Regions from separate parts of the Homo sapiens genome. Here regions 2, 3 and 4 are each linked to region 1. The links come from fine-mapping of genetic effects on gene expression. A gene starts in region 1. Each other region holds a variant in brackets. All regions are shown on one strand. Distances are from middle to middle. Region 1 holds the start of TTC12 (tetratricopeptide repeat domain 12). Region 2 has its middle 7.5 kb from the start of ANKK1. Region 3 overlaps TTC12 (tetratricopeptide repeat domain 12). Region 4 overlaps NCAM1 (neural cell adhesion molecule 1).

What was found. PIP is the estimated chance that this variant, and not a neighbour inherited with it, causes the effect.
Region 2: its variant is fine-mapped to the expression of TTC12 in whole blood (TOPMed, PIP 0.97).
Region 3: its variant is fine-mapped to the expression of TTC12 in whole blood (TOPMed, PIP above 0.99).
Region 4: its variant is fine-mapped to the expression of TTC12 in tibial artery (GTEx, PIP above 0.99).

Annotation. Positions count from the first base shown.
Region 1 is chr11:113,310,850-113,318,956 of GRCh38, reverse strand. TTC12 (tetratricopeptide repeat domain 12) reads right to left here and starts at 4,374. Exons shown (of 22, transcript NM_017868.4): 1 at 4,339-4,374; 2 at 2,642-2,714. The coding sequence starts at 2,699. TTC12-DT (TTC12 divergent transcript) reads left to right here and starts at 4,501. Exons shown (of 5, transcript NR_199709.1): 1 at 4,501-4,627. RefSeq lists silencers at 4,004-4,103, 3,996-4,290, 4,314-4,563.
Region 2 is chr11:113,376,215-113,384,321 of GRCh38, reverse strand. No RefSeq gene overlaps it. Among named protein-coding and RNA genes, the nearest start is that of ANKK1, 7.5 kb to the left of the region's middle. The variant G/A (reference allele first, on the strand shown) is at 3,301.
Region 3 is chr11:113,363,839-113,371,929 of GRCh38, reverse strand. It overlaps TTC12 (tetratricopeptide repeat domain 12), which reads right to left. Exons shown (of 22, transcript NM_017868.4): 20 at 8,003-8,091; 21 at 6,870-7,095; 22 at 5,543-5,705. The coding sequence ends at 5,630. Among named protein-coding and RNA genes, the nearest start is that of ANKK1, 20 kb to the left of the region's middle. The variant C/T (reference allele first, on the strand shown) is at 3,311.
Region 4 is chr11:113,237,608-113,245,714 of GRCh38, reverse strand. All of the region lies in intron 14 of NCAM1 (neural cell adhesion molecule 1), which reads right to left. Among named protein-coding and RNA genes, the nearest start is that of NCAM1-AS1, 32 kb to the left of the region's middle. The variant A/G (reference allele first, on the strand shown) is at 3,709.

The DNA of each region.
Region 1 (8,107 bases):
CATTACATAAATTAGATGGAATTGATTTACTGCTCTCGGTAAACACAAATTCCTTACCATGGTTTCCAAGGTCTTTCCTAATCTGGCCCCTCCATATTCAGATGGGACTCTTCTCTCCTTGATCTCTTCTTTCCAGACATTTGGGGCTTTTTATTCTTTTAGTTCCTCAAAAGCACCACACTCTTTCTTCACTCTTAGCTTTCCTACCTCCTTACTTCCCACCCAGGACACTCCCCTGTCATTTTCCCAGTGACCAACTCCGACTCACTCTTCACATTTTGCCTAAATCTCACTTCTTCTGGAAAACTTTATTTAATTTCTGTTATGGACTAAATTGCATCCCCCCCAAAAATTCACATGTTGAAGCTATAACTCCTGGTATGACTGTATTTGTAGATAGGGCCTTTAAAGAAGTAACTAATCATTGCCCTAATCCAATATGACTAGTGTCCTTGTAAGAAGAGAAACACCAAATATATGCACGTACAGAGAGATGACCATGTGAGGGCACAGCGGGAAGGTGCCCATCTGCAAGCCAAGGAGAGAGGCCTCAGAAGAAACCAAACCTGCTCACACCCTGGTCTTAGATTTCTAAACTCCAGAACTCTAAGAAAATAAAGTTTTGTCATTTAAGCCAGCCAGTCTATTTTGTTACAGCAGCCCTAGCCGACTAATACAACCTCCCAAAGCTGGGTTAGATCCCTACACTTTGTAATTCTCTGTGTCTCATATTGCATACTTGAAATTACTGTTTAATATCTGTTTTCTCCACTGGACTATTAATACCATGAAAAGAATAATTCTTTGACTGTATTCTCTAGGCCTTACCAACACTCAACACATAGCAAGAGCCCAAGAAGTAAATGTACAGAATCTATACACATGTGGCTACATAAATTTAAATTAATTGAAACAAGCCGCATTTCAAACCTGGGCTGCAGCCACAAACACACAGAACCCTAAGCACTAGACCACAGGGTGGAGTTATAAGCCATATTTCAAATGCTCAATAATCATGTGGCTAGTTGCTACCATAGTGGACAGTGAGGATTATGGAACATTTTCATCATCACAGAAAGCTCTATTGGACAGCACTGGTATACATGATACCTGAATGAACTTTGAGTATGCATAAGTTAGCCAGGTTAAAAAAAAAGATGAAGAGGCAGTGGGAATGGCAAAGATCCAGTGCAGAGTGTGAAACACAGAGTATGTGTGGCGAAGTATCAGCAGTTTATTGCTGCTCAAGCGTGAGGTAGGGAGATATGAGAGAGGTAAGGACAAGGTCATGGGAGGACTTAAGTCCTGATGAGAGCTTGGGATTTATTATGACTGCAAAAGGAATCCAAGCAGAGAAGTGTCTGGGTCAGATTTGCATTTTAGATACATTACTCTGTGGGAAGTATAAGCCTGGAGACAGGAAAAACAATCAGGGGGTTGTTGACATAGTCTGGGTGAGAAGAACCAGAACAAAGGGAGGGCTGGAGAGGATGGCTCTCCAACCAAACTAGATGGCTAATTGGATGCAGGGTTATGAGTTGGGAGGAGTCCCAGATGACCTGTAAATTTCTGGATGGTGGTGTCACCAACTGAGACCAGGATGAAGGTGAGGGTAGGAGAAGCAGGTTTTATTTGGGAGGGGGAGGGCAAAGGGGAGGGAAAGAGATGATGCCTCAATTTTGGACACATTTAAGTTTATTTGTGGGATACAGTAGGTATGACAGTACCATAGAGGCAGAGGCTCAGAAAAGAAGGCTAAGTGTCCATGTAGATGTGGGGGTCATGAACAAACAGGTGGCAGGTAAAGCTACATGTTTAGACCAGCTGAAGAGAAAGGTGGCAGTGGGCCAAGGCCAGAGCTCCATGGAACAGCATTCAGGGATAAGCATTATTCATGTATCATTTACGATGTCACCCAAGCTAGCTTTAAAACCACTTTATTCCTTGAACCCATACAATCTGCTACAAGCAGCAATTTCAGCATATTGCCTGTATTTACTATGTAAGGTCTGTTTGCTTGTTGGTTTGTTTGTTTCTATACTCAAGCAAGCTCCCTGAACAGGGACTGACAGGTTTGGAAATTCCTGAATGTGATCTGTGGGATCAGAGTACATTTCTTTGAGATCCAACCTGCCTGAACTTGGGAAAGGACTTTCTTGTCTAGAGAGAGAGAAGGGAATGATGATCATAAACCATCCATGTAATTTGATGGATCCTAAAGGAAAGCCATTTGATTTTGCCTCTGCAGCTCTAAAACAGAAATGGCTCTACTCTAAAACGGGAGGAATCTCACACTGATCAATGAGGTTCTTGACCCTTGAAGGGAACAGCTGGGTTCATTGTCAATGGGGAAACAGCAGCTGGTTTTGACTGGATTCCACATAGAAGGATACAAAATATGGAAGAAAACCGTCAGCCTGAATTCCTATCAGAATGTTAACAGTTTCTCTGATACCAATTAACAGCCAGAAAATACAGCCCTGAGGCTATAACTTGTTTCTCAATACCCTTCTCTTTAATTTCAATTACATTTTTTTCCTAAGAGTTATAAACCTGTCAAGCCACCCAGGAACTTAGAGCAATCATTTATCTACTCCACTTCTCTAAAGCAGAAATTAATTTATGATTTACTAGTACTTACAGATTTCATCCACATTTTTAAGAAATTTCTGCAAATCTTTCTCTTTATCAGCATCCATTGTGAACCGGAATCCCTAAGGGATGCAGCATAATGGTGAAATTAATAATAATAAAGCACTAAACAGAACGGTCAGGCTTATTAGCCTTCTAAAACTAAGAGCCAAGTGATTATTTTTATGACAGTTTTGTTTATGTCAATGAATAACAGCAGGGTGATCCCTTTCATTCCAACTGCTGTTTTAGGCCAAGAGGCACTCATTTACGTGCGGCAATGCTTCCAGAAAGCTTCCAGCCCTCCTTCCAGTGCAGAAAACGCTCTGCAAATAGTTCTTCCAAAGCCAACATCAACCCCGGCGATTTAGGGACCTGGCATGGAGATGAGAAGAGAGCAGATGACAGGTTGCCAAGGATAGAGAAATACACTAACACCTGACTTTGATCATGACAGGCTGGTCTAGTCAGAAGCTTAAATGTGGATGTGTGACAGGTAACAAACTTGGGGCAATTTGCATCTAAATGTCCATACTTGTTTAAAATCTGCCTTTGGCTTGTTTCTGAAGAGTGAAGAAAGGGTACAAATTGACTGAAGGGATTAGAACATAATGTTACCATGCTCACCAGCGTCTCTTCTGCTCTAGGTACCTCAGATATTATTTTACAGTTGTTTTTGTGCGAGAAGGCCCCGTGGTGTACCCAGCAGTACTCAGTGGTTCATCCACAGATCATAAAAATCATCGGGAAGATTGTTAAATATACAGCTTCCTCAGCCGTAGCCCGAGATTTCAAGTCAGTAAACCCGGGACATTGCCCAGACACGAATATAGATTTTAAACACTTTCCAGGTGATTCTCATTTATGGCCAGGTTTCATAGTAGTGTAACACGCTTCTAACACGTAATCTGCCACGAACAAACTACGAGTGATTTAATCGAGTCTCAGTGTCCTCATCTCCACCAGTTACAAGCTGTGTGATTCTGGCTAAATTCACAACCTCTCCGAGCCTCAGAGTCCTCACCCATACTATGGGAACAGTAAGAGAGAAACTACGAGGACTATTCTGGGGACTGATGTAAAGCACCAGGCACGCGACGAGTCCTCACCGTGAAGCACCCTTACCTATATAAAACAGGGGGTGGGGTTGCGGCTTAACTGAATAATCGCTAGGGTTTCTTCCAGGTCAAATCTTTTCAACTCCCACGGAACAGAGGCCTAGTCCAGTGAATTAATCTGCCCAACGGTATGAAGGTTAGAAGGCAGGCGCGCGGGTGCATGGACAGGAGACAACCTCTGTCTCCCAGGGCATGGATCTCAGGGTCCTCACTGCCTGGCCAGTGCCCCCCTACGCTAGGGTGAGAGGGCCAGAGCCAGGTGATGGCGAAGCGGCGCCGCGCTCAGTGCTTCACTCGGTAGGGCTGCGGCAGCGGGGACCTGTGCCCGAGCCCCGCGCGGAGCCTGCCCCAGACGCGCGCTGCCCGCCGGGCGCAAAGAGGCCAGGCCGCACGCACTGTTGCCCAGCAACCGCTCCCAGGCGTCCGCAAGTCCCGGGCCCTCCATGCAGGTCCCAGACCGCAGCCGTCCCAGACCGCAGCCAAGACCTTCCCATGCTCTGGGGCCCAAAGCAGCGTCCTCTGCTCGGCTCTGAAGGCCAGTGCAGGACCAGCTCCCAGGGGGGATTCCGGGGTACCCCGCGGCACCGACCTGATTCGCCCAGCTTTGGACAGGAAATGGCGCAGTGACCTGCCTGGGCTGGGGCGGGGCCAGGAGCCAGGGGCCCGGGGCGGGACCAAGGGCGGGGCCAGGAGCCAGGGCCCGGGGCGGGACCAAGGACGGGGTCAAAAGCCAGGAGGCGGGACAGGGGGCGGGCATGGACACGCGATCAGATTCGCTACCGCAGAGCTCTAGCTCCGGAGCGCGCCAAGTTGAAGGCCAAAGTCGAGGTTGGGATGCCCGATGCCTGGCGCGGGGAGACGGAGGAAGCAAAGTGCTGGTAACTAAAGCAGCGCCTGCTGCTCGCCTTTTTTCTACTGAAGAAGGGTTGTCTCACTCCCGTTAGCTTAATATCCTTGCCCAAAATGTAAAGTCTCCAGTGTACTTGTGAATCCGGTTTTGTTCATTGATAAATGTGTGAGTTAGAAGACTCACACATTTATCCTTAGGAAAGTTATTTGAGTAACCTTTTTAATCCTCAGTTTTCTCACCTGTGAAATGGAGAAATGGCACTTTCTCATAAGGTTTATGGTTAAAGTGCTGTAACCGCCCAATAGGTTCACCTTGCTCACTGCCTAAACAGAGTCGATTTATCAAGACAGGGGAATTGCAATAGAGAAAGAGTAATTCACACAAAGCTGGCTGTGAGGGAGACCGGAGTTTTATTATTACTCAAATCAGTCTCCCTAGCTTTCAGGGATCAGAGTTTTTAAGGATAATTTGGTGGGTAGGGGTCAGTGAGTCGGGAGTGCTGATTGGTAGGCTAGGAGATGAACTCACAGGGAGTCAAAGCTGTCCTCTTGTGCTGAGTCAGTTGCCAGGTGGGGGTCATAAGACCAGATGAGCCAGTTTATTCATCTGGGTGGTGCCAGCTGATCCATCGAGTGCAGTGTCTGTGAAATATCTTAAGCACTGATCTTAGGTTTTACAATAGTTGATGTTATCCCCAGGAGCAATTTGAGGTTTAGAATCTTGCAGCCTCTAGCTGCATGACTCCTAAACCATAATTTCTAATTTTGTGGCTAATTTGTTAGTCCTGAAAAGGCAGTCTAGTTCCTGGGCAAGAAGGGGGTTTGTTTGGGAAAGGGCTGGTATTGTCTTTGTTTCAAAGCTACACTATAAACTAAGTTCCCCCCAAAGTTAGTTTGGCCTATGCCTAGGAATGAACAAAGACAGCTTGGAGATGAGAAGCAAGATGGAGTCGGTTAGGTCAGATCCCTTTCACCATCTCAGTTATAATTTTGCAATGGTGGTTTCAGTGCCTGGTACCTAGTCAGTAGGAACAGGTGGCACGTGACATCCGGGGAATCATAGGGTTTAGAACAGAATGAGCTAATAGGCACATTCATTCATGCCCCAAATACATGCACACAGCCCTAAAGAAATTTCAGTCTGTTTTTCTAAACAAAATCTCAGAGTATTATGTGCAGGGTTACCAATGGAAAAAAAGCAGGTTTAGGGGAAACTTGAGCTTAAGTTCACGGTCAGAAACACCCGGAACTTCTTGGCAAATGAGTGCTTTATGGAAACCTGTTTGGCAGGGAACAAGGAGCCCCTAGAGATGGAATTCGCCAGAGGGGAGAGGGATCCAGGCATGGCCAGCTAGCTCTAGTGTTGATTCCAAGTACAGCCTGTTGACTCTCTTGTGGCCTAGGCCCCATAGGATGCATGCCTGTGTCCTGTAGAGAACAGAAGAGCTGTTTGGCTGAAGTCTCTATGATGCATTGGTACACATACCATCCTGCTTGGGTACCCCTCTAATGCAGTATAACACAAAGGGGCCACGGATGTTCTGCTCCTCTTGGCAGCTGAATGGGTACAGCATCAGCAGAGTGAGTCTTTTGGCTCATCAACTGCAGCAGGAGACCTGGGGATCCCAGCAGGACATGGTCACAGTGGCTGTCCCAAGGGAATGAGGTGCCTCAGGAGAAGTAGCAGACAGTGTAGGTGCCTGGCAGGAGCAAGGACGTTGATGAGCACAGGCTAGGCACACCATAGGGATCCTCAGAAAGATATAGGGTACTTCACAGTGACCTTCCAGCCTGTGGGAATTGATGGAGACAAGAACCAGTGATGTTTTGGTTATCACCATTAGTATCACCCCATTTTCCTCTTAGGCCTGTGAGGCCTTGAATACATGAAGGCTATATGCCTATGGTCCCCAACCTCAGGGTGTTTCTTATCACATTGAGGCCAATAGTTCCAAATCACTTACTTCCTATCCTACTACTCTTTTCACTAAACTCCTTTCCTAGGTTCCAGAGGTATCTGCCCACAACTGACTGTACCACCTAACCATTCACTCACACATTTGTTCAGCTAGTGTGAGTGGCCTGTAGTGTGCTAGATGCAGCGGAAGGCCCCTGGGGTGCACTTGACAAATAGTCATCACATGCTAAGTGGTTAAGAGCTGGGGCTCTGGAGCCATTTTGCTGGGTTCAAATCTCACATCTCCACCTATTAGCATTCATTAAAATGTCTTGAAGCACCTACTATGCACCTTCTATTGTGCTATGTACTGGGGATCATATTCCTCCTTTTTTATTACTAACACTACTGAAACCTTCCTTACAAACTTTATAAAATTAATCAGGGAAGCAGGGAAGGGGAGAAATAAAATAAGCCCAGCTTGCAGCACATTCAGCATGAACCATGAGGTCAGCTTGTTCTCTGGCCTGCTTCTTCATAATTATTTAGTGTCTGTTATCTCAGAATCACGTAGACCCAGTTACAATATTATAGTTCCCCTTAACTGCTCTATAGTTAACAACTTGAACATAAAACATTGTGTTTTCCACTTGGAGTATTCTTTCAGGTCCTGCATACCAGTGAAATTACTAATGTCAGCTGTTCTGAAGGACCCATTGACACCAGCTGGTCTGAGGGCCCCACTATGACCCTGTCCTGCTGCCCCCCCAGGTCTCCTACTGTAGCTGACCAGAAGTTGACTCACCAAAGAATGCAGTTCCCAAATCCTGATACTTTCATCCCCCTTATCCCACCAATGGACAACCCCAGTTATCTAGCCCCTCACCTCCATGATCTCCTTAAAAACCCCAGCCCAGCACTCCACTGGGAGATAGATTTGAGGGACTCCTCCTCACTGCAGCTCTCCTCCCCCTCACTTGGTGCCCTGTGATCTGATTCTTTCTGTGCTGCACATCCTTGTATCTCAATGTAACTAGTCTCTTATACACAGTAGGCATACAGTCTGTTGGTTCTATGCATCTGCTACTGCTACTGCTAGATGTGTGACCTTAAGCAAGTTACTTAATCCCTGTGGGCCTTAGTTTCATCATCTGTAAAACTGGGTTGTTAAATGATTCTCTATCCCATAGGGTTTCTGTGAGAGGTACATGAGTTAATACAGGCCATGTGCTTAGAACAATGCCTGGAGCATTATCAATACCTAGTAAGTATTATTAACTATTACTACTACTATGATTCGTATGTGTTAGACCAGGTCCTCTAAACCTTGATTGTGTGTAGAAATTGCCTGGTGATCTTGTTTAAACAGGATAGGGGCTGAGATCTGCAGTGACATCCCTTTATGGACTGTGGCCACACTGAGTAGAAAAGTGCAGACACTTCATTAAATGCTGGGATGCAGCAGAGCACCAGTGGTACCTAGTCACCAGACTCAAGGAGCTTATCACCCAAGGGGAATAAGGGTCAATAAACAAAATCATCATGTAAATTCTCATTGTGATAAGTGCCATAAGAAGTAAAGGGTGAAAAGCAAAGGTAGCACAGGGTGCCA
Region 2 (8,107 bases), 65 kb before region 1:
ATATATCTAAATACTAGGTATATTTTTAAAGGTTACATTCCTTAGGTATATACTAGGAATACTCCTAGGCAAAAAATATGAACCAGCTGATACTTCACACCTGAAAAATTAACTCAAAATGAATCATGGACTTAAATATTAAATGTAAACTTATAAAAATTTTAGGAAAAAAAAAGGAGAAAATATTCTGGACCTAGGATTAGATGAAAAGTTCTTAGGCCGAATCCCACAGGCACAATCCATAAAAGGGAAAATTGATAAACTGAACCTCATCAAAATGAAAAACTCTCACTCAGTGAAAGACCTGGTGAAGGTGAAGAGAAGAGTGCAGATGGGGAGAAAATGTTTGTAAAGCACATATTTGACAAAGTGCTGGTTCATAGAGTATATAAGGAGGTCTTCAAACTCAATGCTAAAAAAGCATCAAATTAGAAAATGGGAAAATACATTTCTCTGAAGAGAATATACAGATGACAAATAAGTTCTTGAAAAAATGTTTAATATCATGAGCCACTAAGCAATGCAAGTAAGATATCACTAACTACCTATCAGAATGGCTAAAAATAAAACTGAAAAGATAGTGGCAACGCCAAATGCTGATGAGGATGTAGAGTAATGGGATCACTCATACGCTGGTGGAAATGTAAAATGGTATGGCAATTCTAGAAAAGAATTTGGCCATTTCTTATAAGACTAAACATATGATTACCATACAACCCAGCAATTGCACTCTTGGGAATCTATCCCAGAGAAATGAAAACAGTGTTCACACAAAAATCTGTATATGAATGCTCATTGCAGCTTTATTTGCAATAGCTAAAATCTGGAAACCGCTCAGATGTCCTTCAACCAATGAATGGCTAAACACACCATAGTGCTGTATTATGGAATAGGACTCAGCAACTACTGATATACACAGCCACTTGGATGAGGCCCCAGAGAATTCTATTGAGTGAACAAAGCCAATCATAAAAGGTTACATACTGTATGACTCCATTTATATTGCATTCTTAAAATGACAAAATTATAGAGATGGAGAACAGATTAGTGGTTGTCAGAGGTGAGATTGGGGGAGAGGCAGGTGGGTGTAGCTGTAAAAGGTTAGTGCAAAGGAACCTTGTGATGAAACTATTCTGTATCTTAACTGTGGTGGTGGCCACATGAATCAATGCATGTGACAAAATTCCATCAAATTAAATGCACACACAGATGCACACACACACACAAATGAGTGCATGTAAAACTGACGGCACCTGTGTAAGGACTATGGATTGTATCACTGATTTCCTGGTTGTAATGTTGTGCTATAGTGACATAAGATGTTACCTTTGGGGGAAACTGGGTGAGGGTATCTCTGCATAAGTTCTTAAAATTGTGTGCTTATCTGTAATTATCTCCAAGCAGAACATTTAAAAAATACAAATAAAGCCCCCTTCTTCTCTTCTTCCTCCTCCTCCTTTTCCTCCTCCTCCTTTTCCTCCTCCTACTTCTCCTTCCCCCTTCTATTTCTCGTTCTTGTCCTTATTACTAGGTAATGTTATATTCTTGGAAGGAAAATATTCCCATAATAGGAGAAAGGCAGTAATCTAACATTTACCACAGAATGCCTTAAGGAACACAGCTGGCCCCCTGTGGACACGTAGAAACCCCAAGGAGAAAGAGAAAGGCCACTGTGTTAAATGTCTGAGGCTGGAGACGATGGAGAGAGGGAGCGAACTAGTTCCTTCTAAGACTCAATTTCTGGAGTTGGCAGAGTATAGATTTTCCTTCCTAATAAGGAAACCAGTCTCTCTTTTGAAGGGCTTTTTGATGAAAAACTACCTTGAGTGTCAAGAAGCCAAAAATGGAAGCCCTGAGTTTCATGAACCATGGTTCTCATTGTCAAAATCATGGCCACAGGTTCTTTATGGTCTTGGGTGATTGTGATTCTGGGCTGGGTCCATATAAAAATAACAAACAGATGTCTCAAGCATCCTGCCATCTCAAGCAGTTTAGAAGAAATGCTTGGCTGTGGCCAGGGCTTCAGAGAAACATCATTCCAACATGGGGCCTTAACAGCCTCAGAGCATGCCCAAGATGTCATGGTCAATACCTTCTCTGGCAGTGTCCAAGAGACTAGGAATGCTAAACTTAACCCTTTTTAATTTAACAAAGAGTCAGTCCAGGGAGATTGAGTCCCTATTACCAGGACTCTAAAGGGAAAATGCCCTCCTTATGTCAACCTTGGTGATCTGGCCATAAATCTATCCTTCTGCTCTCCTCTGGGCCCTTCCTGGATAGGGGGGAGTGAAGGAAAGCTAGGACTAGGGAAGGACTTAAACACTAAAAGGTGGTTTTCTTGGGAACTCTGAAAGCTTGCTGGCTCTGCAGGTAAAGAAAGGGACTTCTAAAATGTGACTAGTGTCATGCTTCTTATAACTTCTTTTTTTTTTTTCTATTTTCCTTACTATTCATGTAGAGTAAGTTTCCTTCCTTCCTTCCTTCCTTCCTTCCTTCCTTCCTTCCTTCTTTCCTTCCTTTCCTTCCTCCCTCCCTCCTTCCCTCCCTCCCTTCCTTCCTCCTTTTCTCTTTTAGGGATGAAGAGTTAGCCAGACCACTTTGGGTACACTAAAAGAAACCAAGAAAAGATTTTGCATGGGAATTATTTAAGTGCCTTGTGGATTCTGGATATTAGACTTTTGCTGGATGCCTAGTTTGCAAATATTTTCTCTTATTCCAAGGTTGTCTGTTTACTCTGTTGATAGTTTCTTTTGCTATGCAAAAGCACTTCAGTTTGATTGGGTCCCACTTGTCAACTTTTGGTTTTTTTTGCAATTGTTTTTGTTTTGTTGGGGGACTTAGTCATAAAGTCTCTGCCAAGGCCAATGTCCAGAATGGTATTTTCCTAGGTTTTCTATGATATTTATAGTTTTAGGTCTTACATTTAAATCTTTAATCCATTTTAAGTTAATTTTTATATATTGAGATAGGTAGGGGTCCAGTTTCATTCTCCTACATATGGATAGCTAGTTATCCCATTTATTGAATAGGGAGTCCTTTCCCCATTGCTTGTGATTGTTGACTGTCAAAGATCAGATGGTTGTTAGGTGTGCAGCTTTATTTTGGGTTTGCTATCCTTTTCCATTGGTCTATGTGACTGTTTTTGTGCTAGTACCATGCTGTTTTGGTTACTGCAGGCTTGTAGTATAGTCGGAAGTCAGGTAGTACGATGCCTTCAAATAACTCCATTAAAAAGTGGGCAAAGGAGGCCGGCATGGTGGCTCACGCCTGTAATTCCAGTACTTTGGGAGGCTAAGGCGG[G/A]TGGATCATGAGGTCAGGAGTTCAAGACCAGCCTGGCCAACATAATGAAACCCTGTCTCTCCTAAAAATACAAAAATTAGCTGTGCATAGTGGTGCGCACCTGTAGTCCCAGCTACTTGGGAGGCTGAGGCAGGAGAATTGCTTGAACCTGGCAGATGGAGGTTGCAGTGAGCCGAGATTGTACCACTGCACTCCAGCTTGGGCAACAGAGCGAGAGTTCGTCTCAAAAAAAAAAAAAAAAAAGTGGGCAAAGGTCAACAAACATATGAAAAAATGCTCAACATCACTCAGGGAAATGCAAATCAAACCCATACCACCTTACTCCTGCAAGAATGGCCATAATCAAAAACCAAAAAACAGTAGATGTTGGTGTGGATGCAGTGATCAGGTGTGGATGCAGGAACACTTCTACACTGCTGGTGGGAATGTAAACTATATGGCCACTATGGAAAACAGTGTGGAGATTCCTTAAAGAACTAAAAGTAGAACTACCATTTGATCAAGCAATCCCACTACTAGGTATCTACCCAGAGGAAAAGAAGTCATTATATGAAAAAGATACTTGCACACACATTTACAGCAGTACAATTCTCAATTGCAAAATTGTGGAACCAACCAAAATGCCTATCAATCAACTAGTGGAAAAGGAAACTGTGAGATATACATATATATGATGGAATACTACTCAGCCATAAAAAGGAATGAATTAACAGCATTTTCATGGACCTGGATGAGATTGGAGACTACTATTCTAAGTGAAGTATCTCAGTAATGGAAAACTAAATGTTGTTTGTTATCACTGATATGTGGGAGCTAAGCTATGAGGACACAAAGGCATAAGAACCATACCATGGACTTTGGGGACTTGGGGGGAAGGGTGGGAGGAGGACAAGGGATAAGAGATTACAAATAGGGGGCAGTATATACTGCTCAGGTGATGGGTGCACCAAAATCTCACAAATCACTACCAAAGAACTTACTTATGTAACCAAATGCTACCTGTACCCCAATAACCTATGGAAACATAAAATAAAAAATAAAAAGTGGGCAAAGGACATGAACAGAACATCTCAAAAGAGGACATACCTGCGGCCAACACATATATGAAAAAGTGCTCAACATCAGTAATCATTAGAGAAATGCAAATCAAAATCACAATGAGTTACTGTTTTGCAGCAACCATTTTAATAATGGCTATTATTTAAAAAAAAAACAAAAAATAACAAATGCTGGTGAGGCTGTGGAGAAAAGGGAACACTTATACACTGTTTGTGGTAGTGCAAATTAGTTCAGTCACTGTGAAAGCAAGCTGAATATTTCCCAAAAAACTTAGAATTAACATTCAACCCAGCAATCCTATTACTAGGCATAAAATAAATCTTGCTACCAAAAAGACATGTGCATTCATATGTTCATCACAGCACTGTTCACAATGGCAAAGACATGGAATCAACCTAGGAGCCCATCAATGGTGGATTGGATAAAGAAAATGTGGTACATATACACCATGGACTACTATGCAGCCATAAAAAAGAATGAAATCATGTCCTTTGCAACAACACAGATGCAGCTGGAGGCCATTATCCTAAGTGGTGAATTAACACAGAAACAGAAAACCAAATACCACATGTTCTCACTTGTAAGTGGAAGCCAAACCTTAGGTATACATAGACAGAAAGATGGGAATAACAGACACTGGGAACTACTGGGGGTGGAGAAGGGAGGGGGCAAGGGTTGAAAAACTACCTGTCGGGTGCTATGCTTGTTTGCTTGCTCCCTGGGTGATAGGATCATTCATACCCCAAACCTCAGCATCACACAATATACCCATGCAACAAACCTGCACATGCACCCACTGAATCTAAAATACAAGTTGAAAAAGAAGAAAATATTTTGTTTGTTTGTTTCACTATGTGGTATAGGTGGTTGTGAAGAATACAATTCTTAAAAGTCAAAGAAACTTAAATAGACCAATAGAATATGGGCTCCTGGACAGGAATCTTGTTCTCTGCTCTATCCTCAGTACTTGGCCATGTAGGAGGGAGCTCATTTAACATTTGATGAATGAATGAATGAATGAATGAATGAATGAATGAATGAATGAATGGATGAATGAACAGGAAGGTGAATCTCCCGGGGTGAAGGTTGATTTCTAGCCTTTTTTCAGAGACTTCTCTAGTCTGAGTAGGTTCTGAGTCATTTTGTAGCAGACCAGGCTTTTCCTTTACAGTTTTCTCCAACCTGCCTCCCCAGGGTCAGGCCACTAAAACCCCTAGGCAGATTCTCCTGGGAGAGATCCTTAGAGATTCCCATCATTGCTACCTTCCCCCGGTCGGTTTCCTTATGATCATTTACGATGCTTCATATTTTTATAAGTATGGTTTTCCAAGCAAAGGGCTGTTCTGATGAATGAGAGAACAAATTGATGGCGAGGCTTCAGGGGCCAAAGCAATAATCAGATGGTCATTTAGCCAGCCTTTGCTTCAAACCAGACACTCCATCCCAAGTGCTCAACTTGCATTATCTCATTTAATTTTCTTGACAACCCTCTGAGTTTGGTACTATTATTATTTCCATTTTTGCAGGTTTAGAGGAGCCTTGGGTCACGCAGTTGGCAATTCAGTGGCCCAGGACTTAAACCTGGCTTGCTTCCTGCCAAGGTACATTGCTCTTAACATATGGCCAGAATAGCCTTGATCAAATCAAATACAGGACTCTGAGCCTGAGGCTTATCCATTGCTGGCGGTGGGGTGGGGTGTCACGTGCTCCCCAGGCCAGGCCTGAACAATAGGACCTCCTGGGGGGAGAAAAATCAGCTGTGGAAATTTAGAGACACTCCCTGTTCTCCTTCAACCTGAAAGGAAGAGAAAAGAGAGGGTGGGTGTGCTGGTACTGAAGAGGTGGAGCTTTGACTAATATGCTCATCAGGACTTTGCCTGCAGCAAAAAGATATCTTTGGAAGCTGTGCCTGTGGAAAGGTCAGTATTAGCTCAATCAAATTTGGCTTATGGAGAAACTTCGGGATTACTTAGTTGCAGTGGAAATGTGTCTTTGTCTCTACAGTTTTGGTTGGAAAGAAAGCAATGTGTCCCTGGGACTGTCAAAACGCTTTTTAACCAGTAACAGGAAAACTATGTATGTGCTGGTAAATTTGCATTGAATATGGAAACTTGGCACATAGAGTGTCAAGCAGATGGAGTTTCAGACTGGGAAAAGAATGCCTTTCAGATTCCATCCAGCTCTGAGCTATCCTCTCTCTCCTGGGGGAATTACTCAGGATGATCTAGAAGAGAAAGGAACCGATAGTTGGCCCCGGGAGCACGAATCAGGAGCAATTGGGAGTGGAGAAGGCAAGTGACTGAAGATGAGAGCTGAAGCAATGCCCCTTTCCAGGTATACAGTGGTGGCAGGCACCTGGTGCTAGCCACAGGTGCAAGGGCTGGCTTTTCATAGAAACAAAGACTGGTCTAGACACAAGCCTACAGGTATTTCCAGATGATGGCATCAAGTGATGTGAGAACAGATAACCAAAGAAGGCCTGCTAAGAGTCTTTTTGCCTTGAAATTCAAAGGAGCAGAGGACCTTATCTACTTGGGTAGGTGAATGAGAGTGTGTTTTGGTGGCAGAGAGTGGATAAAGGAATTTGTGGGGATGTCTTCGGTCAGCTCAGATAAGGAAAGTGAGGGTGAGAATCACAGCAAATTTTCCTGCCCCAGCCTTTGATATAGTCTCAGTTTCATTCATTTCTCCTCATCCTCTCTCCCTACCCACAACCCACACTCGTATTTGCCATGTCTTTCTTCCAATGTAGGAAAGGGACAGCTCAGACATCACCTCTTCCAGGAAGATTTCTACCCCAGTGCCTCATGCTGGGCCAGATGTCCTAGCTTTGTATCACAAACATTCACTAAGCCCAAGGGTATGTGACCCTCTAGTGTGTTGTCCTTTGGCTCCCTTTTGACTGGGAGTTCCTCGAGAGAAGAGAAGGTCCTATCCCTCTGTGTGTGCCCAGCACTTATCCCAATGCCTGGTACATAGTGGAAACTAGTAAACAGAAGCTAGTGTTTACTGTAGTATTTTAGCTTAAACCATTATCACCAGTAGGGGCTGGGGAGCTGTGGAGAGTCTAAAGTTAGAGTAACCAGGCTTCACCCCAGGCTGGCCCTAGTGAAAGTCCCCTAATGCCTTCTCCTGCTAAATTTCATCATTCAGGCAACAAATATTTATTGAGCACCTATTATGTATCAGCACTTTTCTAGGTATTTGGACACATCAGGGATCAGAACCAACAAAAATTACGAAGTTCACATTCTAGTGGGAAAAGGGAGCAGAATGCAAACAATAAATCATATATCATGAGAAGCAAGTTAAACAGTATGTCAGAATAATATGTATCTATTAAGGTATTATGTTGGGGAAAGAAAGGAGATGGGGGAAATAGGGCAGGAGCACTTAACATTTTAACTGATACCTTAAGGTGTCAGCCTAAAAAAAAAAAAGACATCAGAGAAATATATCTCCTAATTTAATGATCTTATTTGTGAGTAAGCAAAAGGATTATAATCTAGGATGCACAGCTATAGCAAGCAACAGATGCACCCGAAGAGGGGAGGGTGAGGGGAAGCTTTTATTGGCAAAAGGAGAAGTTCACATAAGCTGCTTAGAAACAGAGTTCATTGGCTCTGGAGACTCAAAGCCAGAATTGGCGTCAGTTCATTGGTGGAGATGCTGTTACTAGGCAAGTAGTCTTTTGAGAGTATCTTTTCTGAATTGCTGTAGTCCTAAAGAATGTCTAGTGATAAACCTG
Region 3 (8,091 bases), 53 kb before region 1:
AGGGCTTCCATGTGCCAAGTACGGTGATGAGAGCTTTATAGAAATCATCTCATTTAATCCCCACAACAAACCTAAGAAGTGGGTATCATATCTCCCCTATTGCCTTTTACAGACAAGGCAATCGAGGGGCTAAGCCACTCACTAAGGTTATGAAACTTAAAACTTAAAGCGAGGTTATGAAATTTAAAGCAAGGTGGAGGAGGACTTTGAGCCTGCACTCCCACCACTGAGCTTCCTGCCTCTCCGGGTCTTGTTGGAGTCCCTACCCCACTCTGGACCATTAGTTCAGAGGGTTCTTGAACAAAGGTAAGAACATTGAAGATACTTCACTTGGCCTTTCTGAGTCTCAGATTCCTTATTTATAAAATAAGGGGGCATGGACTAGCCATTTTGGAGCAATTAATTGTATTTAGACAATGAATCAGATGGACTCCAACAAAGCAGATACAGTCAGCCCTCTGTACCCTCGGGTTCCAAATTTGCAGATTCAACCAACTGCAGATCAAAAATATTTGGGGAAAAAACAATAAAAATAACACTCCAACAATAAAAAATAATACAAATTTTAAGAAATACAGTATATCCACTATTTACATAGAATTTACATTGTGTTAGGTATTATAAGCAATCTAGAGATGATTTAAAGTATATGAGAATGTATGTAGGTTATATGCAAATATGATGCATTTCATATAGGGGACCTGAGCATCCCAGGGCTTTGGTATCTGTGGTATCAATCCCTGGTGGATACAAAGGGATGACTGTAGAGGATTAGATGATCCCTGAATACTTTTCAGCTTGGACATTCTAGGAGCCTTTTCTTCAGCCTCTTGTTCCAATAATTCTCACTATCTTGCTGTGCCTTTGATCTAGTGTAAATCACCTTGCACGTTAACTCACCTATTTTAATGTGCAAATTCATCTCCCAGCAGCAGCGAGATGAATTCCGTGTGTGTGGGGGTGTGTGTATGTGTGTGCTTGTTGCCCGAGGGGAGTTGAGGGATCTAAATGAGCATCCAGAGCTGCTGAAGATAAGAAGCCCAAACATAAAGTTGGGGACAGATGTGACAATGGAGTGATGCTCAGGCTGAGCTGAATCAGCACATCTGGCAGGCAGCCACCCTCATTTAAAGCAGTTCCTTCCAACCCGCTGGTGACAGGAGCCCTGCTCCAGAACTGGGGAGATCTGAGGCTGGGGTGGCTGGCAGAGGTAATCGGCAGCCCACTGTTCCCTGCTTTGCCAGCACCCTAAGGCTCCCTCCTACCTAAGCCAGGGCTGAGCCTCAGAGCAGCCAAGAAAGCCTGATCCAGCCCCAGGGCAAAATCAGACCACAGGGCAGAATGTCTCCAGGGAGAACTCCTTCATCATTTTGCCTTTTTGAAATTGAGATCAAATTAGGAGTCTTATTAAAAGGAAATAAGTCATCCAGCAGCTTCAGGTCACAGAAGCCCAGTGCTTGGCTGGCATGTGGCCACCCACAGGGCCGGGAGCTGCTGGAGGAGGTGGTGGGCAACTGGATGTCCCGCTGGGCTAGCACTCCTCTTTCTAGGGCATCAGGGAGGGTAGGGGGATGCAGCTCTGGGGCTTTAGGAGAAAAGAACTAATGACATCCTGATGAATATATGATTGGAGCTACAGTCATTGCAATCAACAGGTTTTCCTGATTATAAACTGAGGACAAACTGCAAGTAACAGAGGAGTATCTGTTTGCAAAGAGGATTTTAGAGCATTGATCCTAGCACCTTCCACTTCACACTGGGTCCTGTTGATGCCCATGCACCCCTGGCCCCAGGCCCTGACAAGGAGCGCTGCTACCCTATCCCTGAGCCCTGAGTTGCTCTGAACCCCATCCCACCCAAGACCAGTGCTCTCAGGCCCTGCTGCCATGGGGTCATGTAAGAAGGCAGGCTTCTGGCTGGCAGCTGGCTCTTGGGGGATCTTCATGTTTGCCACCAGTCACAGGAGAGAGGGAAAGGTAAACAGAGCCAAATACATGCTTGCCTTCAGTGAGACGGAGGACCAAGGAAGATAAGCAGATCCGTGAGGGTGGGAGGGGGCAGATAATGGGCTCATGGTCATTTCTGTTCTCAAAAAGAGTCGCCATTAAGTAAATACTTTCTATCTGTCAGTCACCTATGCTAGGTACTTCATGTATATTATATCCAAACCACAGAAGGAGAGGTAGGTGTTGATGCTCCCATTTTATAGAGAGGAAACTGGGGCTCTGAGAAATGTGGTGACTTTTCTGCAGGTCACACTTAGTAAGGAGAGGAATGTTTTACATGCAGGAAGAGTTAAGAACACAGCTTGGGGTCAAATTCTGACTCCCCTGCTTCCTGGCTATGTGATCCTGGGTGGGAAAGTACTATTCTGTTTTTATCTTATTTACCTGTAAAGTGGAGATAATACCCACCTCACAGTCGTTATGAGGCTTATGTTAGGGCAGGATCTTCAAGTTTTGATAGGGTGCCTAGTGCAGAGCAAAGGCACAATGCACGGGGGGTGGGGGGGCGGGCATGGTGGCTCGCATCTGTAATCCCAGCACTTTGGGAGGCTGAGGCAGGTGGATCACTTGAGGTCAGGAGTTCGAGACCAGCCTGGTCAACATGGTGAAACACCATATTTCATAAAAATATGAAAATTTGGGATACGGACGCATGCCTGTAATCCCAGCTATGGGAAGCTGAGACATGAGAATCACTTGAACCTGGGAGGCAGAGGTTGCAGTGAGCTGAGATCACACCACTGCACTCCAGCCTGGCCGATAAAGTGAGGCTCTGTTTCAAAACAAACAAACAAACAAACAAACAATGCACAGGCAGGCTTTATTCTTTCTCTCTGCGTGTCTGCAGGATGCCAGTCTATGAGGACCAAAAGCTCATTCCCTGGGAAAGGGAGTCAGCTCTAAATGGGTTTTCTTCACCTCTGATTATTCTCTCCTGTAACGGAACCCTTGGAGAGCCTCTATTTTCAAGTTATTTAGAAAATGAGACCTCTTACTTAAAAAAAGTCATGTGGTATTAAATGTCTTCTTGTCCTCAGAATATTAGGTTAGTGCAAAAGAAATTGCAGTTTTTGTCATTACTTTTAATGGCAAAAACTGCAATTAGTTTTGCACCAACCTAATACTTCTTAGTCATACTTCCCCTCAGTTCTCCAAGCCAAGAAGCTCTTATTTGAACCTATCCTTAAAAAAGTGTTTACAATAGCAGCCCGTGACCTGTTGCAGCATCTCAGCCCCTTCCTATTGTTTCCTCTCAACTCTGAACCTCAGTCCCACCTTGCGGCGCACTGGAACCACCGTCCTCA[C/T]GTCATGTATGAAGACAGTGAGCAGCTCTGGACTGTCTGTTACCTGCCACCTCTGCTGTGGCTTCAGGATGGTGATGGAGTTCCATCCCGGCCACATCCTCTTTAGGATGGAAAATCCCAGCTCCTCTGCTTGTTGAACCAGAAGACTCTGATTACCTGGAACAAGCCGTGTCTCCAAGGGTGGTGTCGGGGCTCCTGGCAAGTGGAGATGAGGCCTTCTGAAAGATGGCGCTGGTATTTTCCATGCTGCCTGGAAGGTCTGCATGGTAGCATGTGTTAGGGGTAACAAGTTTGGGGCGGTGGCGGGGGTGGATCCACACTGGAGAGGGAGAATACTAGCATGTGAAACATCTCTTCCCACCTGCGAGGAGACAGAGCTTCAGGTGCAGCAGACTCTCTTCCAAATTGGAGATGACTGCTCTCGGCAGGCACTCTGGAACAATAAACATAATAACGTAATTTGACATTCCCCACTCTTTGGGGAAGAGAATACACCTATCATAGCCATTTTCAAGAGCCAAGAAGGAGGGCAGCCATAGCAGGGGAAGGCGGGGCCTGAACTTCAAAGGAGACAGGGCTGGTGGTTATGAACACAAACAGCCTTTCCGTTTTCAAAGCTCCACGGAATTCTGTGAAAACAGCAACTTTTGCACCCTCTAATTTTCTTCTTTGTGCTCTGATTAGCATCGAGCCGTTCTCCCTTTGCAATTCAGTAGCCTCTTGAAGGGTGTTTGTTTGCATGATAGGACTGATGGGCAGGTCCTGGCTAGTGGCCTGTCACTTGCTTGCCACCCAGGGCGCCACCACAGAGTGCCCCAGTGAGCTCCCTCCAGCCATGCGCAGTACATCAATCTGAATGAGGGGCTCAGGCCATTGATTTTCTTCCACCGCCCACCCCCGTCACCAAATGCCAATTATTTATCTCCGTTTCAGAAACGAAGTTCTTAATTTAAGCCAACAGCTGCCTTACCTGTGAAGAACACTTTCTTTGGGTGTGTTGAATAACATCTCCCTGGAGGAGGAGGATTTCCTTTCCTACATGCTTCAGAGAATGGCCAGCTTGATTCCTTAAAGGACATGAGCTTCATCCTTTCCCAGACCCTTCAAACTTAACCCAAATGACGTCATAGTTGACACCCTCAATCTCAAGATAGAGTCTGGTAATCTCTTATATTTGCGTAGTACTTTATAATTCCCAAAGTGCCTTCACCTCCAAAACTTCATTTAACCTTTACAACAATGGAGGAGGTAGGTTGGGCAGGTATTAGTGTTTCCAGAAGCAGTAGCCAAAGCTCAGAGAGGTTAAGCAACTTGCCCAAAGTCACATGGCTGGCAGGGCAGGTAGCAGGGTACGACCAAAAGTCTTTGGAACTTTGGTCTGGGACTCCTGACATTCACTGTACCATGAAGACCCTGCCTCCTACTCTAAAATGATTCTGTGATTGTAAGGAGCCAGAGATAATGCCACTTATTGGACTTCTCACTTAGGGACTTGCAGTCCACAGGTGACCCTGGTTTAGAGTGACCCTGGGGCAACTGGAAGGGAGCGTTGCCTCTGGGGATGGGGTGAGAGTACAAGGTGGGTTAGGGAAATCAACACATTTGCATCAGTCAGGGTTCACTGTAGAAAGAGAAGCCTGTGCTTTGGCACCTTTAGCAGAGAACAATCTAACCCATGGAACAGGGTGCCTATAGCACCACCAGATGGGCTGGAGGAGGGTGCCAGAGGGACCCCCAGGAATGATTCCCAGAATGATTCACGCAGAGTTCTCCTAACAGGGGAGACACCACCTACCACTCACCCCACTGAATTTAACGGCACATGCAGTGGCTGCAGGCCAGGAGTCAGCTGCAGGCCACCAATGATGCCAATGCAACTCTCTCTCAGCACTCCACAGCTGGAAAAACGGAGCTGAAATGCTGCTACCAACAAATCTGATGTTTCTAGCATATTGCCAGCAGAAAATAGCAAAAGGGGTAGGAAGTGGCATTAGATTGGCCACTAGTTCCCATCTAGAATCGTTGCTACAAGGGAGTCTGGGCAATGTGGCTTTTTGTGAGATGGTTTCTAGCTTCTACAGAACAGGAAAGAACATTCAAAGGAGGGTACAATGGAAGTCGAGTAAGCCAGTGCACAGAGCCCACCACAGCAGCCAGCCTAATGCCCACTCTCTTGTTACCCGTGAAAACCTGAAATGCAAACACTCTAAAAATGAGTACTTGATTCTGAAGTGGATACATCAAAGGTCTTTATTAGCATAGGAACAACACACGGTGTGCATCTGTGTGTTCCCCAAATGCACACAAACCCTGTCTCTCTCAAGAATCACTGATGTATTTCATCGTAGAGTTGAGAATTTCTAGGCCATGAAGCTTTCTCAGTTGAGCAGCAAATCTGTCACAATCAAAACAAACAACCCAGGGCATAAGTGCCACGGTTCAGGCTTCTGGAGCCCAGAGCCAACACCCTCTCAGATGGAAGCTGGCTGAGAACGTCAGTCCTATCACTCTGGGTGGAAACAGGAAGTGGCTGTGGCATTGGGGTACCCTAAAGATCACAGGGGTAAGTAAGACCCTCAGGGAGGCCCACAAAGCACTGAAAACACTCGCTGCAGGTGGCAGGTGTGTCAGGCTGATCAGACAGGACCTTGCTCTCGAGAACTCCCCCATAGGTTGCCACTTTGAAGTCATCCTAGCTAATGTGCTTTCTTTCTATAGAAGAAAGATTTTAACTATTCCTTCCATTTGAACAACCAGACAGAACTTGAAAGGACCTTAGATATTATCAAGGCCAACCCCCTCAATCTACAGAGGAGGAATTAAAGGCATGTGGATGTAAGGGAAGGAGCCTCTCTCACTCAGCTCCCGGGGTTACCCTTGCTCTATGCCAGGGCTCCTTTGCTCAGCCACAGGTGGACACCTCCCAAAAGCACGTGCAATGAGATGCGTCTGCACATCAGAAGAGGAGCAGAGCAGAGTGGAGGTCTGAGCTAACAGAGAAGCCATGGGCACAGTTACAGCCCACATCTCTTGCCCTCGCTCACTGGGGACCTCGGCATGCTGTTCTGCGTCTCTCCTTCTCCACTGTTTTCTCCTGCATGAACATGTGACCCTTGCTGGCCGTTCCTCCATTTGTTTAGGCTGAGGCAAAGAACATGAAGTGGGGGGTCTGTTTCTGGAAAAGTGGAGAAGAGAGAAAAGAGGGAAGAGAAGGGGAGGTGGAGTGGGAGGGAGGGGAAGAAGGAGGATAAAGAGACAGGGAGAGGGATGCAAAACAGTGGAGAATGGAATGGAGAGAAGGCAACGGCAGCAAGTGGGAGCAGCACGTCCCTGTCAGACAAGCCGATTCCCTCTCTGGTTGGAGACCGAGAGCTCCCCAGTTTCCTCTAGAAAGGCTTTCTTCAGAGAAGCAGCTACTGGGCTTAACCTAGGTCTGCACAGAAAGCATGAGGGCTTCCCACACTGTTCTGTGTGGCATGCAGTCCCAGCCAAAACTCAGCACCTCAGCTCAGCTGCTCTTTCTGCAATAGGTCAGCCTGGCTCCGTGTCCACAGCATACCTGGGCTCAGCTGTGCACAGCTTCCCCAGAGCAATGCCTGCGTTCACCTGCACGGCCGTCTTCTGTGTGTCACTGCCTGCAAGCTTTAACAAGACCTGCAAAAGGTCCGTCTTTAGCAGGGAAGACGCAACGTTGGGCACCTCCATGCAGTTACCAAGGCAGAGGGCAGCGTTGCCCACCAGAACCTCATCCTCCGAGCTGAGCAGCTTCATCATAACGCTCAACTCTGCAGGGAAAGAAGAGAACAAGCAACAGCTCCTTTTAATCCCAAAATAGGAGGCTGGCAACAGGACATGAGGGGTGCAGGGAGATGTCAGCGGACACCGAGCTTCCCCAGTAACTCTGCAGCAGAACTTGTTCACTTACTCATCAGCAAACATTCACTGAATGCATATGAACCTCCTCAACTCCTTGCTGAACCTCTGAAGTATCTCCGCTTCCTAGAACAGTGCCCAGCACAACACAGTTGTTAGATGAATGAATGCTGTGTGTCAGACAGGTCTGTCTTCTTGAAAGCCTATTCTTAACCTCTCACTGCGCCAGGGTGAGAGGTCTTATCTGACAGCCCCCAGGTGGAGGCAATGTGCCAGCAACCTACACCTGCAGGGTATGCAACAGGATCCAGGAGAAAGGCTTGCCGCTTCCATGGTGGAGCCTCCTTCAGTTCACCTTCTGTGCATTCCAGGGAGTTGGTAAGAAGAACATTAGCAGGCTGCCTCTCCTGGGAAGCCTGCTGTGAATAACTACAGCCGGTTTAAGTTACTGGACTAAACCTAGGCTCAGACTCTGATATTTCCCTTGTTCACTAAACGTTGACGGTGTTTCCCCCTCTCCTTCTGTGAAGGCAGAGAACTGAACTTGGTGAGAGGAGGGAGTTTCCTAGCTTTGACCCTGTTATCTTTGAGCCATCTGTCAGCTGGGTCTCCAGCCTGGGCATTCTACCTGTGTGCATCCAAAAGGTTAATTAAATGCTTTCAGATCTGGATGTGAAACATCTTCTGTAAACATTGCTGAAGTCTGGGAGAGGTTAACAGCATTGCTGCTAAGTTCCTCCTCGACCACAGTTCCCTTTGCAGCTTCAAGGGTGGATGAACCTCTGGGACAAGGGCTCCCTTAAGGAAATCATCACTTACTTTTATCCAGTCTTATTACTTCTTCCCGAGCTTCATGATAACTATTCGTGCAGATAGCTAGTATCTTTATAGCATAACGTGATGCAGTC
Region 4 (8,107 bases), 73 kb after region 1:
GGTGGATGCATGCCAGAGATGGTGGCTTTGAGGATCTTATCTCACTTCTTTCTCCACAAACCCATGTTATTCCTGAGACCTCGGTGAGCCTCCCTGAAGTCAAGACCCATATAAAGGAAGAGGCCAGTGCAGACTAGGGAATGGGTTTCCTTCTGATGGTTGAGACAATGGCTGTGTTGACACTAAACAGCAGAAACTGTACCTTTGGCCCAACGTGCTGAGAGTTTGACATTAAGCAAATGTTTGGGCCATTTGTGGTTAAAGTTTTTTGTTTTGAAACGGTCTCGTTTCATCACCCAGGCTGCAGTGCAGTGGCATGAAGATAGCTCACTCCAGCCTTGACCTCCCGGGCTCAAGCAATCTTTCTGCCTCAGCCTCCTGAATGGCTGGGACTGCAGGCGTCTGCTACTATACCCAGCTAATTTTTCTATTTTTTGTAGAGATGGGGGTTTCGCCCTGTTGGCCCCGCTGGGCTCAAGTGATCCTTCCACCTCAGCCTCCCAAAGTGCTGGGATTATAGGCTTGAGCCACGGCACCCAACCTGTTGTGGTTAAAGTTATATCTTTAGAATCGTGGTTGCACTGATAAGTCATAAATTTGAGATTTACAATGAAAAAAAAAAAACACTTTTCTTAAGCATTCCTTTTGGTCCTATGTTGTGACTGAGTGATCTCGACTTGTTAAAAGGTATTTTGGGTTTCTGACCTTAAATTTAAGAGGCCAGGGAAAGTTTTGGCCATTGCCAATTGAGGCTGAGGGAGAAGGGCAAAGAAGGGAGATGAAGACACCTTTCTGTGTAAAGAACACCGCTGGTTAAAAATAACCTGAGAGAAATGCTTTAACCAGGCTACCTCTTCCCTTGCCACCGTGAGCTGACAGAATGTGTGCTTCTTTCTTATTGTCTGGCATTACACAGATTCAGGCACCTTCCTACCAAAGGGGCCTTGCAGGGATTATATACAACTAAGCAATTGCTCCTTTGGTTTTATTTAGAATACCTTTATTCCCTCATAATTATAAATGGGTCCACACACACACACACACACACACACACACACACGCACACACACAGAAGCAAAACTGGGAGATATGTATTTTCAACCCCACTGATGGATTGATGATCGATGGATATTCACATGCTGATAGCTACTCTGCTATTAGTTCCACTGCAATTCACATGTGCCACATTTCATCTTACTAGTGAGAAATATGTTCATGCTAAACTCAGGCTGCTGCCCAATTGTGAGCATCTTTCCTTTATCTCAGTATCCACTGGGACCTACAATTTGGGTCAGTAGTCAAGTGGTTCAAAATAAAATGACTCAAACTTTCTTCCCTTTGGATGTCACAACTAAGCATTTTGTCTGTGGGCAGAAATGTCTGATGTTTAAAAATTAAAGACATGTCAGGGGAGAGACACCTAATTCCTTCTTCAGGCAAAATCTGGAACCAAGATTGTGTTTCACTAACAGAGAAGACCAACCTACAGTGAGCCACCTGAAATATGACACAGTTGTACAAATACATTATGTAGCTTTCTCCTACTGTGCCTGGACACACATTGCACCAGGTTGAAAAAGGACAGGAGTGACACTGTAGAATAAGAAAAGGGGCTGTCAGCTGCATTCCTTTTCCAAATGTAAAAAAAAACCCCTCATAATCTGAATTAAACCCATGCGAGCACAGCCTGTTGTCACCGGCTCTGCTCTGCTGACAAAATGAAACCTCAAAAGCATCAGGAATTAAAATTCATCGCAGCACACACACGGAGGGAACACCAAGAAAGCAGACCCTTAGCTGTGTTCTGCAGTAGAAAAAAAAGAACCATTTCATGCAACACACAGAACCAGGAAACTCTTTTCTTCTCTGTTCAATTATGTATTGGAAAGCTTGGCCCGGGGAGCTGGAGTTATACTTTGCATACCTGCTTTCTGCCTTCTTGTTCTGCTTGATGGGATGTATGCCATTTTTTTTCTGTGCAAGCAGAAATATTATAAAATCTAAAACTCCCACACAGCTTTGATGCTTGAACACTATGAACATGCACGCATACTCATATGGATTCTTCAGGAGATTCAGGTCCTCCACACACATCTTACTTCATTAGAGCATTATGAAGACCAGCTTGGAACATGTTACAGCAGTGATTCTGTGCAATGTTTTCTACGATGAAAAAAGAGGATACAATCTGGCTCTTGACTCTATTGTCAAGAGATAAATTCCAGCACTTTCATCTGGACTCTCAACCCAAGGGGAGCCTGGATTAGGCTTTTTCTGCCCATCATTTTTCTAGCACTGAGGCGGGAGCCTGAAAGGAGACAGCAGGAAGGAGCTCTCTCCTTCCCCTGTGCTCTGCGTACGCGGAGACAAAGCCGGGCATGCTGTCAGGAAGCAGCGGCTCCTTCCTTCTCGGCATCACCCTCTCCCTTTCCTCAAGCAGCCATTTTCTCCTATTCCTTCCCTCGCTCTCAGTCTTTTTGCTACTGCTAAATTAACACGCGCATGAGCGTGTGTATTTCAGAAGGAGGGACAGCAAAGCGAAAGCCGGGAAGGAGATGCTGTTCTTTTGTGTCCTCAGGGTTTGCCTAATCCTTGGCTATTTTTAACTAGAGAGTCGATTTGGAAAAGCCTCCTCATGCACGGAGTATTCTTCCAATAATCAACCCCGTTCTTTTGCTGATGCTTGGTTTGCTCTCTTGGCCAAGCAGACGGCATGCTTAGGAAACCACACCAGGCTAGGAGCCTTCATGCATTCACAACTGTTGCTTTTAATAAAAGGGAAAACAACAGGCAGCGCTGTAATCTAGAAGTCGGCTCTACAACAAGCGATCAGAGGTCTGGCCGAGAGCAACTCAGCCCTGTACTCACTAGCTGGTTCTGTGGTTGCAAGGGCAGGAAGAGGCCAAGTTGCTATGGAAACACGACAGACAGAAAAGGCAAAGAAAGGTGAAGGAGAGAATGGAGATAAATTAAACTCATAGCTATATATGTATACATACATGGGTGAGTATATATTATACATATGTAGGCATCATTATAAAGATGGTGAAGGAGGTATTCTCTCTCTTCTCTATCAATATTAATATACATATTATTTATTATTTTGAGATGGAGTCTTGCTCTGTCACTCAGGCTAGAGTGCAATGGTGCGATCTTGTCTCATTACAACCTCCATCTCCTGGGTTCAAACAATTCTCCTGCCTCAGCCTCCCAAGTAACTGGGATTACAGGCACATGCCACCACGCCTGGCTAATTTTTGTATTTTTAGTAGAGACAAGGTTGCCCAGACCGGTCTTGAACTCCTGGCCTCAAGCAATCCACCCGCCTGGCCCTCTCAAAGTGCTGGGATTACAGGCCTGAGCCACCATGCTGGGCCTTAATATACATATTTAAAAGACTCTTAATATACATATTTAAAAGAGATGATCAGAGATTTTGCTGACAAATGACTTTCATGCAGCAAGAGATAACATAACTCTCATTTATTCTTACTATTAATTCCAGCTGCTAAATGCTGAGCAGTATGTTTTGTGTTCTTCACATTTAATCTTTAATTTTCACAAACACTGAAAAGGTAAGTGGAATCCATCCTTCACCTTAGAGGTAAGAAATCTGAGACTTGGGGAGGCTTAGCGACTTATCCTAGGTTATGGAGCTTCAGGCGGAAGAAGCGGAGCTGTGATTTGAACCCAGGTCTGTCTACTTCC[A/G]AAGCCTGAACTCCGTCTGCTACAGGACAGTGCCTGGAAAAGCACTGCATGGGATGGTGGGCATGCTTCTGAGTCAACAGATGGTGACAGAGGGCTTCTGAGCTTGAGGCTTGAGTCACCTCCTGAGTCTGAGTCCAAACCACAGGGGCTTCTGATATATCAAGGAGAATAAAGCCAGCCAGGCGGCACCACCCTGCCTGCCCATTTGCTGCTGTCTGCCACTCTGGGCAGATGCTGGCATTACATCCTGTGTCTTACTGAGCTGTGGTCTTACTTTGCTATTCCTCCCTGGAAAGCTAGGTTCAAAACTCCAAACAGTGGCAGGCCTGGAGCCCCTTCTACTCCTGCACATTCAGGCACACAAAAGGACAGGATAGCAACATTAATTAGATCAGAAATGAGCAAGGCTTAGCCAGGATGATGAAATCTGAGAGCGACCAGCTGACATTACTGCTGGCTTGGTGGTAATGATCCCATGTGGGTAAAGCAGAGCATGATAAACATGAAAATGTTTGTGATTTTCTTTAGGGTGGCGGGACGTGGGTGACTACTCATCCTATTTTACAGAGGAGATAAACAAGGCTCACTTGTGAAGGGTTAAACGATTTGCCTAAGCGCCTACTGCCAGGCACATCTGCCAGACACTGCCAGACACTGTTTATTTTCCCACAAATATTTACAAGAAAAGTATGCATTTATGGATAAAGCGAAAGCTACAGGCCTCCCTATCTAATTTCAATGTCTGTATCCAACTGTGCCAATTAAAATGAAGGGTAAAAACAAAACACTCCAACACATTTTCTATGACCCTGCAGAGGAGACATTTTTCTTGGTCAATTCCTTTGGCTTCTCCAAATACGAGCTTTGATCCAGCCCACTCAGAATCCTGAGGACAGGGCTGGCCCCAGGGCGGCAGCCTTGGGGATCCTGCCTGCAGGGTTTTCTATCCAGAACAATGCTTTTCCCTCGCCTCTCCTTCAGGGAAGGCTGCCCCTCATGGATCTGAGAAGCCCTATGCCTGTTTCTCTTCTCAACTGCTCCTCTAAAACCCGACGCTGCTTTCCACCAACTGAGTTGAATTATCACCTGGTGAAGGAGATAACATTAGGCAAAACAAACTGTGGCTGGTGGAAAGTGACCTGCAGAGAGATGGATGAAGAAAATGATACTCACTATCTGGTGGAGACAATGGAACAGGGGTAGACGAGCTAGCAGATGCCGCTGAAGAAAGAAAAATGAAGGTGGGGAAAAAAGATCATTGAGGCACACAGATACTGAATGAAAAAAAAATGGAAGCAACAACCCTGGGGCATCAGTATGAGGAGCTGAAGTGAGTTAAAGTGGGAAGAACAACACCGTGTGTGAACAGCTGGCCAGGGCACTAGCGAGGAGCAGGGCTCTCTCTAACGTCAAACCTTGAGACTGTGCACCTGCCAAACCCTGCAGTTCAGGTAAAGTCTGGGCCAGGAACAGCTGCACAAGCCTCAAACCTTGACTGAAAACAAATATCCAGTTCAGCAGGACCAGCTGTCTCCATAGGACGAGAGGTATAGGAGGAAAAGGAATCTGGACCTCAGTTTAAGGTGAACCAGTGAAGGAGAAAATAGACATTGGCTTTTCATGTTACACATCTATATATGTGTTTCTATATAGGTATATATTTCCACATATGACTTTATTTATAGCAAAACCTATATGCCTCACTCATTTCAACATCTGAATGAATGAGACAGAAATGGCTCTCCTACCTAATGTGTACTAGTGTATGAAGTTCATGATCCTGTATCATACAGATGATGCTGCAACCACTGCTGCCTTCCAAAACTCCCCTACAGAATGTGGTTATTTGGAGGCTGCTACGTAAGAGCCATGCAAATAATGTTCAGGATTATTCTCACTCCTCCAGGGAATAGAAATGATGAAGAGACTGGGACTGAAATTCTAGCCATTCTTCTGTGTAGAGGATGGTTAGTTGTGCATCTGAGATACTGGGACACTGAATGGATCTTTGGTTTTTCATTGGCAAATATTTGGAAGTAGTCCCATCAGCAGTCACAAAACAAAGTCTCCTTCGAGAGCTAGATGAAAATTTGGAAAAACCTCAGTGTATCTCCGCCACTGCCTTAATATCTAATACTCATGGTTTTGTCTTCCTTTACCTTCCACATGAGGGCATCTCATTAAACCATGAGTACAGTGTCACTGGAATCAAAGCAACAAAGAATCATAACTCATCATTATTGGATGGTCTGGTTAATTCAGGTCTCCTTCCCTCTCTTTTCTTTGTTTAGCTTGAATTGTTTGCATAGTTATACTTGCAATGTGCCACCTGGGGGACAACATATGAAAACAAAAATCTCAAGATGCCTCTTTTAAAAAGTAGAGACTCAGGAGTATGGCGTGAACCCGGGAGGCGGAGCTTGCAGTGAGCCGAGATCCCGCCACTGCACTCCAGCCTGGGCGACAGAGCGAGACTCCGTCTCAAAAAAAAAAAAAAAAAAAAAAAAGTAGAGACTCATTCATAATCTCTATATTCAAAAAGAAATAATCTATTTTGCTTCATGGTACAGAAGCAAATTAAGAGGTAATGTTTGGGCAATGAAATTATGAAGGTGGGTAGCTCAGTCATGGAGGGGAAGATTCCTAGCTAGTTGTAAGGAGTCTGACACAAGCAGCCCGTCTCAAGGCAAACAGAGGTTTTGAGCTTTCCTCCTGAGTGTCTTGATGGCATGCAGACATTTGGCTTAAAAAATACATGAAATAGGCACATTCTCACAGGTTAGAGTTTTATTTGTTGGTCTGGGGTCACAGCTTCCTCATTACCTTCATGCACATTCATGAACTACACACAAAGGAACCTCCAAACAGGTAAGCCATGCTTACTAACTGGCAGCTTGAAAACAAGAGTCCATTAAGTGTTTGTGGCTTTTACTAGCTCCCCCTGCTCATCCCTGCTCTGATATATCCATGTCCCTAAACATGGAAAGGTCTATTAAAGAACCAAGAAAGCAACCCCATTATTGAGACATCTCAACGAACTTCAAGCGATGAGTCAGTGCCAAATGCGCTGGTCTCACCTGACACCTGGCAGCCCAGGAGTCCGGCAGCAACACCTGCCTGTGCAGCACACTGGCCTCTGCTGACTCTGTGCCTTCTCTTCCTTGGGGCTTGGGGTATAACCAGAGCACAACTCCAGTGGTAGGAGATCCTGCTGTGCATCTGCATCCCAACAGTATTACAGGACAGGGGTGCAGTGTCAGTGGTGCCGTAAGCTGGCATCAGAAACCAATGCCACTGGTTCTTGGGCTCAGTGCAAGCACACAGCTAAACTGGTGGTTGGTTCTGTCTACCTAAGTTCAGACAATCTTTGTGTCTTCCAAGAAATGAGAGTAAGAATTCAGAGAAGGTCCTTCCTAAGGCTCGTCCTCAGTTCCTAGCAGCAAAAGGGTGGGTTTGTCATAGCAGTTGTAACTGCTGGCAGCATCCTCCCAATGATATCTGTTTTCAGGATGGGTCTAGGGGCAGCAGGATACTCCGTGGGCTAAGTCCTCACTTCAGCAACTCTGGGAAGGTTATCAGGGCACAAAGAAAGACCATAATAAGTTATCTTTGGTGATAATATGATGTTCCCATATGTTCACCGCCTCATCCTGCTAAAATTCTTGCAAAAGGCGTGCTCAACTCTAAGAATATGCCATGGTTCTACTTATCTAAAAGAAGTTTGCCTTTTGATTCTTCAGACCTTAACTTTATTAAATGATTGAGAAAAACTGACTTTCTGTACCACTAACAATGCCTGTTGTTGTACCATTCATGACCTACTTGGAATGCAGAGATGACACCATCCTTTTCCAAAGGGCTTCTTGGAGTCGTGGTTACTTATCCATTTTGATACTATCAGACAATAAACAACAAGGTCTGGAGACCTCTTTTTTGTAGTTAAAAATCTAAATTTTAATTTAAAATTAAAATTTCATTAAAAATTTCATTTTTAACATTGACTTTAAAAATATAGCTTCTGAGATATATATCTATATCTATCTATCTATCTATATATCTATATATATATCTATATATCTATATCTATATATCTATATATATCTATATATCTATATCTATATATCTATATATATCTATATATCTATATATATGGTCTCACCTTTGCAAGAACTGAGCTGGCAATGAATGAAAACCACTGCGGCCTTTGAAGTCCAAGACCCAGTTACTCTGATTCAGTACTCAAACTCCAGTTACTGGTTAGAAACTCAGAGGGGGGCCTCATCCCAGCCTTCCTCTCTTTAATGTAACTAAGCCAGCATTCATTTACTGATCAAATCCAGACCAGAGGAAACCTGGAGACTCAGTTGAACCACAAGTTAAAGATCAGGGGAAGATCCAG